Linked DNA regions of Homo sapiens: region 2 is linked to region 1. Evidence: fine-mapped expression QTL. A gene starts in region 1. The other region holds a variant in brackets. All regions are shown on one strand. Distances are from middle to middle.

Region 1 (5,380 bases):
GAAATACAAAAATTAGCTGGGCGTGGTGGCACATGCTTGTAATCCCAGCTACTCAGGAGGCTGAGGCACGAGAACTGCTTGAACCCAGGAGGTGGAGGCTGCAGTGTGCAGAGATCACACCACTACACTCCAGCCTGAGTGACAAAGTGAGACTCTGTCTCAAAAAAAAATTTTTTTTTCTAAAGGTTTTACTTAATGTTTTTATTTAATCTTTGCTAATTGTGAACCCTTCTGCAATGGGCTTTGCAGGTACGATTTCAACTTCAAATCTTTCTATTTAAGTGAGAGAAAGGTAATTGAAAGATTGTTTTATCAATATTTTTACTTTTTCTACCTTAGGTTATTCCCTTCCAGGTCAATTTCTCACATAAACTCATATCTGCAAAGCCCATACCAAAAGGGTTCCCAATTAGCAAAGATTAAATAAAATATTAAGTAAAACCTTTTTTAAATTTTTAATTACTGAATTTTAAGTGTCTTAATTATAAGAACATCCGACTTTTACGGCTAGGTGAATATTCTCTTTGAAGTCTAGACAATAGTTTTTGAATACTACTCTTCTTAGTAAACTAATGTATTCGTTCATTATCAGATAAATGGAATGTAAACCAGTTATGTAAAAATATCACATATACTAATGCATTTTTCCAAACCTTAAAGCCCTACAGAAATTATAAAGAAACATTATTCTCGTGTTATCATGAAGCTAGAAGGGTCCAAAGAAATACAAAGTGAAACCTCTTGTATTTAAAACAAAACTTGCACCACCACCACCACCCCAAAATAGTTTTTTTTTTTTTTTAGAATATCTCTTCCAAGTTTTAAAGTTCAAGTAAAATTGATGTAATAGCAATAAGTGTAGTAACAGTAAAGTAGGGAATGGTGACTATTCTATAGCAAAGATCTACAGATGTTGGAATTGTGTTAAAAACCTTCAGAGCCACACCACAGCCTTCTATTACATTTAAATGTCGTAGGAAAAACTGCAATTTTCCGGAAAATTGTATTAAGGACCAGGTGCTCTAATACCAAGAGCTGTTTTGACACATCAAAGGTTAAGTTTGGGTCTTTGAAAATCCTGCCTCTTACTGAACACTTTAAAAGTCATTCATGTTAAAACACACACATTCTTGCCTTTGACTATACACTGTAAAAGTACTACATGTTAAAATGGAGATGGGGACATTTTTGTTGTTTAAGTTTATGGAAGTATGACTCCATTTTAGTATAGCTACAATGTCGCAAACGATGGAATAAGGTACTCATCAATACATTACCTGGTAAGTATAAATAGTTCAACTTGCCGGCTTTGAAAAGCTTAATCCTATTTCTTATGGTGAACCTTAAATAAAATGAAAATACACAACTGACAATGTTTAACGTGCACTTAAACAAACAAAAAACAAAAAAAAACAGGAGCTAGCAATTCGAAATCCTCCAAACACCCGCGGAAGTCTGACACACAGGGTGTTTTCCTCGGTGACCGCCAGCCGGACATTCCTATGGGAAAAGCAGCTTCTTCTGTGCGGTTCGAAGAAAATCAACCCCTTCCTTTCATCACTTTCTCATTCACTCTGCAGGGGGTGGGCCAATAAGGAGCTGAATGAAGCTCCCCTTTGGCATCCGGGCGCACGTCTCGCCTCCTCCCCACTACTTTCTGGGTTCCCTAAGGCTGCCGAAGCCGAGGACCTGGAGCCGGGTAGTGTCCCGGCGCTGCGCCCGGGGGCTCCAGGCCTCAACCCGAAGGGCTCAGCCCCGGGAGAGGCCAGGCACGCGAGGGCAGCCACAGCTCCAAGGGGCGCCAAGAAAAGCAATGCTCACTCGCCACGCACAGGGTTCGGGGGAGGTAAGGGTGCGTTTTCTTCCCATATTCCCGGTGAGAAAACGAGGTCGAGGGAAAAGGGGATGATACAACTGGAGCATGGCATATGGACTCAGTGAACAAAGGGACTGGAGCAAGAAGCAGCAGCCACGCCAACGCAGACTCAAAAGGGCTCTCCGGCTTTACGCACGCAACCCTCATCTCGACAGCGCTCGGCGCCCCTTACGCCACTGGCTCAGCCTCAGAGACTTCGCGAATATGGCTTTGCGCACTGCGGCGGGGCTGCGCCGCAACCGAGCTCAGCCCTGTGGCTCCTCCTCGCTGCCCTGCGCGGATTGGTGGCAGACGGCAACCGGGCCGCTGATTGGGCGGCGAAGGAGCCATTCGGGGAGACTCTGGTGGGTTCGGCTGCCCCAAGAGTGATAAGTTCGGCTTCAGACACGCCTTAGCGCCAGCAGTGAGTCGGAGCTCTATGGAGGTGGCAGCGGGTACCGAGTGGCGGCTGCAGCAGCGACTCCTCTGAGCTGAGTTTGAGGCCGTCCCCGACTCCTTCCTCCCCCTTCCCTCCCCCTTTTTTTTGTTTTCCGTTCCCCTTTCCCCTCCCTTCCCTATCCCCGACGACCGGATCCTGAGGAGGCAGCTGCGGTGGCAGCTGCTGAGTTCTCGGTGAAGGTGAGTTGAGCCGCTGCCGCCGCCGAGTGGAGCGCTCTAAAATGGCCGCCGTCCCTGGTCGCTTCTTCTCGAGTGGTACAAAATGGCGGCCGCAGGCGGAGCCGGGTGGGGCGACCCTTTTTTAGCATTTCCTCTGCGCTTCAGATACCTGGAAAGTCTTGGCTTTTGTTCTCTCTTCCTGTTGCTGACGGAGTAGAAGGAAAACGTCAGTGTTGGCCAGGCCGCCGTGCGGTCATGGCCGGATGGCCGACGCCTGCAGGGACGAGGCCGTGGCGGACCGAGGCACGGCTGTGCTCGGACGGCGAGGGAGCGTGGCTCGGACCGCTAGCGCCGTGGCGGGAGGCACGCGGGCCGGCAGGGAAGGCCAGGCCGTTGGCGCGGGACCAGGGAACCGCAGGCGTCCCGGAGCCTGGCCTCCCGGCGGGGAGGTGTGTAGGACCTGGAGTCGGCAGGGGCTGCCCTTCGTCGGGGAGGAAAGAGAGAGTGATGATTTCTGCCCCTTTTGTCAGCAGAGGAGGCCGTGGCGAGGCGGTTGTCAGTCCCGGGGGGATTTATGGTGCAGGAGGGGGCCCGCTTGGAGGCGGCGGGTGGGCAGGAGGCCGCCTTCCTGCTTGGAGAACAAAGAGCTGGGCGCCGGGCTGGCGGGGGTGGCCTCAGCTGCTCCTCCCCGTCGAGCGACCCGGGCCTCGCGGGGAGGTTGTCGGAAGCACTTCCCTAACTTGCGCCTGGGTGGGAGGAATGCTCCGCTCTTTTGTTCCCAGGAAGGGAAAAACGGGGCGGAGGTTCCTGCTGCCATGTTGTGGCCCTGGTCTTCCGCCTGCAAGTGCTAGTCCTGTACACCCGGCCCCCTCTCGCGCGTCTTTCCACGAGCTCTCCACGGGGAGGAGGCGAAAGGGTGGACAGGGGAAAACTGCTGAAGAGCTTTCGGAGAGACCTCATCTAGTCGCTGGCCTCGTCAAGGCAGTAAAAATTCCTAGGGCAGACATTTTCCACGTGATGTTGCTCGTGTCTGTAGTTAGACTTTTCTATTGATCTCAGTGCTCAGTTTTAAAGATAGTAGAATGTGGCTTTTTCAAAAGATTCGTTCTGAGCCGTTTAAAATGCTCTTGTGTTCTACGAAGTCTCTTTGCATCCTTGAACACCGGGGAATTTCCAGGTGGCTAAACAAAATGTAATTGTCAGTGTTTTGAGTACATTTTAGGTTAGTCTTACAGATCTGCAATGCAGTGACAGTGCCAGGATCTGAAATACGTTGTAATTGAATGAAGGCTTATAGATCTGTATGTTAGCAGTGTCTAATTTTGGTGCTCTTTCTCGTTCCAGGTATTTCATTTCTCCTGTCCCCTCCCCTCCCCACCCCATCTATTAATATTATTCTTTTGAAGATTCTTCGTTGTCAAGCCGCCAAAGTGGAGAGTGCGATTGCAGAAGGGGGTGCTTCTCGTTTCAGGTACTTGTAGATTTATTTTGGGGAATCCTTTTGAAAAGGCCAGTCTCAAAAAGTAGTTAACACAGCAAATAAGTCCGACTTAATGGGCTGCAATTTTCATTTGAAAAGTTCTTAAGTTTTCATTGACAGCCTTCTAAGAACTGCCATCTGAAGAATAAATAAAATCAATTATTTGCCTTTCCTTTGGGTCCGAGTTCAGTCTTCATTTGTAGCATAATATACAAGCACTAAAATACAGGCCTGGCTCCAGTCTGGGCAAAATAGCGAGACCCCCATCTCTACAAGCAAAGCAAAACACAAAATAGATGCTTATTCTTTTTGAGTGAGACATAGTTGGGATACAGTAAACAATTTTTTTCTTTTAAATAGTGCTTCTTCGGGCGGAGGAGGAAGTAGGGGTGCACCTCAGCACTATCCCAAGACTGCTGGCAACAGGTGTGGTAAACATGTAAAAAAACAGTGAGCTTTATTTAACAGATTAAAAGTCTTTCCCATGTGACGGTATAATTAAGGCAATAGCCATCAAGACTCCTAATCTTAAGGGGCGTGGTTTCTGTTGGGTATCCTAAATACAGAATATCAGTTCCTGATTATTCCTTAGCCAAATTTTCTAAGTGAGTTGAGACTCTCAAGCTGTTATTTTTTTCCTTATTCTTTGGGTTATTTTTACTAATGTGTTTTTCTGAAATCAGTAGCTATTATTCCTACTGATTGTTATTAGTAAAGTAGTACGCACTCAACATGGTCAATAAAACATTAGAAAGTGTTTATTGGCAGCCGGTACAGTGGCTCACACCTGTAATCCCAACAACAACTTTGGGAGGCAAAGGTGGGAGGGTCGCTTGAACCCAAGAGTTTGAGATCAGCCTGGGCAAGACAGCAAGACCCCATCTCTTAAAAAAAATGTTAATTTTCAAAATGTGGTTCCACAGCGTTGATACTGGGAATATTTACTAGACATGCAAATTCTTAGGCCCCACCCCAAACCAGTGAAAGCAGAAACTGGGTGGGCCCAGCAATCTGTATTAACAAGCCCTTCAGGTGATTCTGATGCACACTACTGTTCCAGAAGCACTAATTTCCAGAGTTGGCTTTCTTGGAGGGGAAGTCGAGAAAGCCTAAATTACTTTTTTCTATGTAAGAGAATTTATGATGTTTAACATTTGGTGTGTGACAATAAGTGTTTTTGCTGATTTTTATTAATCAGCGAGTTCCTGGGGAAAACCCCAGGGCAAAACGCTCAGAAATGGATTCCTGCACGAAGCACTAGACGAGATGACAACTCCGCAGCAAACAACTCCGCAAACGAAAAAGAACGACATGATGCAATCTTCAGGAAAGTAAGAGGGTAAGTTTCAAGGTCTGTTTTACTAAAAGATGGGAAGTGTGGATTAGCTGTGTTTGGTGTGTGTGCTGTATTACTAAGAAGGCAAGGT
Region 2 (5,380 bases), 29 kb before region 1:
TTAAGACTAGCTTGGGCAACACAGTGAGACCCTGTCTCTATTTTTAAATATATATGTATTTTTAAAATGTTATAAAGAAAAATTCCTGGCATTACTTTAGTGTAATTTATAAGATTTATTTAATGTCATTTGCATCTAAAAAAGGAGCAAACATTATTTTAGTGCATCTTATTTTTTATTCCACATTGCATCAAAAATTTCATCACTTCATGTGTTTCTAAATCATATATTTATGTTTGCATAATTGTGCTCATTTTTAAACTTTATATATATATATATATATATATATTTAATAGAGATGGGGTCTCACTATGATGGGGTCTCACTGTGTTCAAGACTGGTCAGTCTTGAACTCCTGGCTTCAAGCAGCCCTCCCACCTTGGCCTCCCAAAGTGCCAGGATTATAGGTGTGAGCTACCATGCCCAGCGTAAACTTTTTATTTTGAAATAAAGTTAGACTGGCTGGGTGTGGTGACTCATGCCTGTAATCTTAGCACTTTGGGAGGCTGAGGCGGGCAGATCACCTGAGGTCAGGAGTTTGAGACCAATCTGGCCAACATGGCAAAACCCCATCTCTACTAAAAATACAAAAATTAGCCAGGTGTGGTGGCGGGCTACTCAAGAGGCTGAGGCAGGAGAATCACTTGAACCCGGGAGGCAGAGGTTGCAGTGAGCCGAGATCACACCATTGCACTCCAGCCTGGGAGACAGAGCAAAACTCCATCTCAAAAATAAATAAATAAAGTTACACTTACAGAAAAGTTGCAAAAATAGTACCAATACCTTCACATAGCTTCCCCTAATATCAACGTATTATATAATTATAGCATAATTATCAAAATTAATAAACATAAGTACAATACCATTAGCTAAATTACAAATACACCTTATATAAATGAGGAGAGAAAACAAGTCAATGGGAATGATTAACCTATATAGATACATACAAAATAGAATAAAGTAGATGGGTAGCTACTACATCTTTATTTCTACAACTGGTCTCGTAAACTAGAATATCCTTCCTTCATTATCTATTCCATCTTCATACTGCCAGCATCTGCAGCTGGTTAATAAACTTCCAGTTAAGAGGAACCATTCTTGGATTTTCTGGGTTAGAGCATGTCTCCCTTAGATAAAGAGTTCTACATAGGCAAAGCTCAAAGTTGTGAAAATAGAAAGCAAAACATTTTGAGTGCATCAGTGGGTATCGTAGTGGGAAGTGTTTATCTCAAGCCTGGGTTTCCCAGCAGATATAGATAAGGGAAAAACCGCGCTTTATGTTGGTTGCTGGTTCACAGCACATTGCTGTAGCACAGGAGTTGGCATGCTTTTTTCTGTAAAGGACCAGATAATAAATATTCCAAGCTTTAAAGACCACACATGATTGATATCTGTCATGTATTCTTTTTTGTTGTTACTGTTACAACCCTTAAAAAGTGTAAAAAAAAAATTCTTAAAATCTGTCCAAAAATAGGATTTAGGGCATATTTGCCCTCAGACTATAATTTGCTAATCTCTGCTATAGGGCGACATCCTAACTTTGCAAAGCATTCCTTCCCTGCTGGGAAACAAAAGACACATACACACAAATGTTCATTGCAGCACTGTTCACAATAGCAAAGACATGGAATCAACTTAAATGCCCATCAATGACAGACTGGGTAAAGAAAATGTGGTACATATACACCATGGAATACTAAATGGCCATAAAAAAGAACGAGATCATGTCTTTTGCAGGAACGTGGATGGAGCTGGTGGCCATTATTCTTAGTAAACTCATGCAGGAACAAAACCAGATACTGCATGTTCCCACTTACAGGTGAGAGCTAAATGTTGAGAACACATGGACACACAGAGAGGAACAACAGACACTGGTGCCTACTTGAGGATGGAAGGTGGAAGGAGGGAGATGAGCAGAAAAAATAACTGTTGGCTTAGTACCTGAGTCACAAAATGGAACAGCTGGAACTGAGTCTTCAAAAAGCTGTTCAAGAGTTCTGAAGACCAGCTGCTTCTGGATGATGGAATGTACAGTAAGACCAGTGAGTCTGTGAGCATAGTATTCTGGGTCACCAAGGATTAACACTTGTGTCTGATAATCCCTTAAAGGTCAAGATATTTCCTCCTGTGCACAATTTTACCCTAGCAAATAGCTATATGTCCTTTTGATTGAAGGCTGAGAGAAAGATACTTTTGATGTAATCACACAGTTCTTTCTCAAAGGTACATAGTATACTCTGTATTCTGAGTCTCTGAACTTCCCAGGA[A/G]TAGAAATAGATGTGGGCTCTGACTTTTAGTGGTGTCTGTAGTCAGGCCTGTGTTTTCCTAATCTAGAGTTTGTTCATTTGCACAAATCTTTAAGTCCTTAGTGAGCTACACATCTGTTTCAGTATTAAAAACTATGATCAATTAGCAACCGTCAAAGATCTCTGTAGGTCAAACCTTTCAATTACCACTCTTGGTAATTGTGCATAATGTTACTATGGCAGTTATGTTCTCCTGTCTGGCCTCTACCACCTCAGGATCCCTCACCATCACTGAAAGTGGAAAGCCCATTTCAAAGAAAAGAAAAAAGAACAAGAAAGGGGGAGGGGGGAAGGCCATTTCAGTGCCAACATATGCAACCTTTATCCCCAGAGGACAGCCATTATAGTAATGTTCAGGGGCACTTGCACTATACTCACCAGTCTATTTATTTATGCTATGGTGTGAAGATAATGTGCTCTAGGTCCTTTGGGGGACACGGGGGTTGATGATCCAATGCAAATAACAACCCATTTCAGGCTGGGCACAGTGGCTCACACCTGTAATCCAAGAGCTTTGGGGAGGCCTAGGCAGGAGGATTGCTTGAGCCTAAGAGTTCAAGGTTGCAGTGAGCTATGATTGTGCCACTGCACTTCGGCCTGAGCAACAGAGCAAGGCTCTGTCGTAAAAAACAAAAAACCCACTTTGAGTTTGCTTTCTTCTTTCTTCCTAAGCCTTTGGAGCTTATCTTCAGCATTATATCAAGACATTTATTCAACCCAGCAATCCCATTACTGGGTAGATACCCAGAAGAATATAAATCATTCTACCATAAAGATACATACACACAAATGTTCACTGCAACACTGTTCACAATAGCAAAGACACGGAATCAACCTAAATGCCCATCAGTGACAGACTGGATAAAGAAAATGTGGTACATATACACCATGGAATACTATGTGGCCATGAAAAAGAACGAGATCATGTCTTTTGCAGGAACGTAGATGGAGCTGGTGGCCATTATTCTTAGTAAACTCATGCAGGAACAGAAAACCAAATACTGCACGTTCCCACTTACAGGTGAGAGCTAAATGATGAGAACACATGGACACACAGAGGAACAACAGACACTGGGGCCTACTTGAGGATGGAAGGTGGGAGGAGGGAGATGAGCAGAAAAAATAACTATTGGCTTAGTACCTGGGTGACAAAATAATCTGCACAACAAACCCGTGACATGAATGTACCTATATAACAAACCTCACATGTACCCCTGGATCTAAAATAAAAGTTAAGCAAAATTTTGGGGCATGCCAGGCGCAGTGGCTCATGCCTGTAATCCCAGCATTTTGGGAGGTCGAGGTGGGCAGATCACCTGAGGTTGGGAGTTTGAGACCAGTCTGGCCAACATGGAGAAACCCCATCTCTACTAAAAATACAGAAATTAGCTGAGTTTAGTGGTGCATGCCTATAATCCCAGCTGCTTGGGAGGCGAGGCAGGAGAATCACTCAAACCCAAGAGGCAGAGGTTGCAGTAAGCTGAGACCAGCCCCTGCACGCCAGCCTGGGTGACAAAGTGAGACTGTCTCAAGAAAAAAAAAAAAAAAATTATTGCCAACCCAATCCTATTTGGTTTCAGTCACCAGTTGAGTCTAGTTTTTAATTAATCAACCGAGCATAACTAGAACACTCAAAGCTACCTGAACTAGTACCAGAATCTTAGACAAATGTTCTCATATCAATACATTCAGCCCAATCCAAAATTATGTTCCTTTTTCCTTGATCTTGCATCTTCAAGAGTCTATTTCTACATATATTCTCCAGCTTTTTGCCAATGCAGTTTAGCAAAATCTTACCATTCTTCTGACATGTAATCTTTCTCTTCCCAAACTTACTTTATTGTTGGTCCTTTAGAGCAGCGGTCCCCAACATTTTCCAGGGACTGGTTTCATGGAAGACAGTTTTTCCATGGACCAGTATGGGGGATTGGTGGGGAGGGGTAGGGGTAGGATGATTCAAGCTCATTACATTTTTTGTACACTTTATATTATTATTACATTGTAATATGTAATGAAATAATTATGCAACTCACCATAATGTAGAATCAGTGGAAGCCCTGAGCTTGTTTTCTTGCAACTAGATGGTCTCATCTGGGAGTAATGGGAGACAGTGAAGATCATCAGGCATTAGATTCTCATAAGGAGCATGCAACCTAGATCCCTCACATGTGCAGTCCACAATAGGGTTTGTGCTCCTATGAGAATCTAATGCTGCTGCTGTTCTGACAGAAGGCAGAGTTCAGGCGGTCATGCAAGCAATGGGGAATGGCTATAAATACAGATGAAGCTTCACTCACTCACCTGCCCCTCACCTCCTGCTGTGCAGCCTGATCCTAACAGGCTGGGGACCTCTGCCTTACAGCATGTGAGGATCTGACTCAATATATGAATCTGGAGTTAGTTATAGGAGATAGGATAGAGAAGAGGAAAATTGCCATCCCTGTGCAAGATGAGACCTTTATTATCTGTATTGTGTGACACATTACCCAAAATTTAGCAACTGAAAATAACAAGCATTATCTCACACAGTTTCTTTAGGTCAGGAATCTAGAATTGGCTTAGGGGGGTGATTCTGGCTCAGGTTATCTCATAACGTTGGTGTCAAGATGTCATTTGGGGCTTGACTGGGGCTGGCGGATCTGCTTTCAATATGGTTCACTCACATACTTGGCAAGTTTGTGCTGGGTCTTTGTAGCAGGCCTCAGTTCCATGCCATTTGAACTTCTCTGTAGTGTCTTTACAATATGGCATCTGGCTTTCTCCAGATGTAAGGCAGAAATGACAATACCTATTATGATATCTATAGCCTCAGAAGTCACACACCATCATGTCTGCAATATTCTATAGGTTACACAGGTCAACCCTAATGAGTATGGGAGGAGGCTACATAAGGTCATTTAATACTAGAAAGTGGAGATCACTGGGGCCTTCTTGGAGACTGGTTACTGAAGGATCACAATATGGTTTTTGATATGGCTTTTCTGTGTCCCCACCCATATCTCATCTTGAATTGTAGGGACCAGGTGGAGATAATTGAATCATGGGGGCAGTTTCCTACATGCTGTTCTTGTGAT

Alleles and levels. Positions count from the first base shown, and alleles are read on the strand shown. Sizes are in standard deviations (SD) of each study's normalised expression.
For the expression in cerebellum of the gene that starts at base 2,273 in region 1, G is the high allele of the variant in region 2 and A is the other (small effect, 0.29 SD a copy in GTEx).

Evidence for each region. PIP is the estimated chance that this variant, and not a neighbour inherited with it, causes the effect.
Region 2: its variant is the best candidate, but not a certain one, in a credible set for the expression of EIF4G2 in cerebellum (GTEx, PIP 0.51).

Annotation. Positions count from the first base shown.
Region 1 is chr11:10,805,819-10,811,198 of GRCh38, reverse strand. It overlaps EIF4G2 (eukaryotic translation initiation factor 4 gamma 2), which reads left to right and starts at 2,273. Exons shown (of 22, transcript NM_001418.4): 1 at 2,273-2,494; 2 at 3,818-3,944; 3 at 4,314-4,379; 4 at 5,152-5,292. The coding sequence starts at 3,904. LOC101928053 (a long non-coding RNA gene) reads right to left here and starts at 1,902. Exons shown (of 3, transcript NR_120540.1): 1 at 1,833-1,902; 2 at 1,278-1,342. RefSeq lists enhancers at 1,189-1,795, 1,871-1,920, 2,431-2,690, 3,421-3,500 and a silencer at 2,101-2,150.
Region 2 is chr11:10,834,931-10,840,310 of GRCh38, reverse strand. No RefSeq gene overlaps it. Among named protein-coding and RNA genes, the nearest start is that of ZBED5, 20 kb to the left of the region's middle. RefSeq lists a silencer at 1,015-1,309. The variant A/G (reference allele first, on the strand shown) is at 2,268.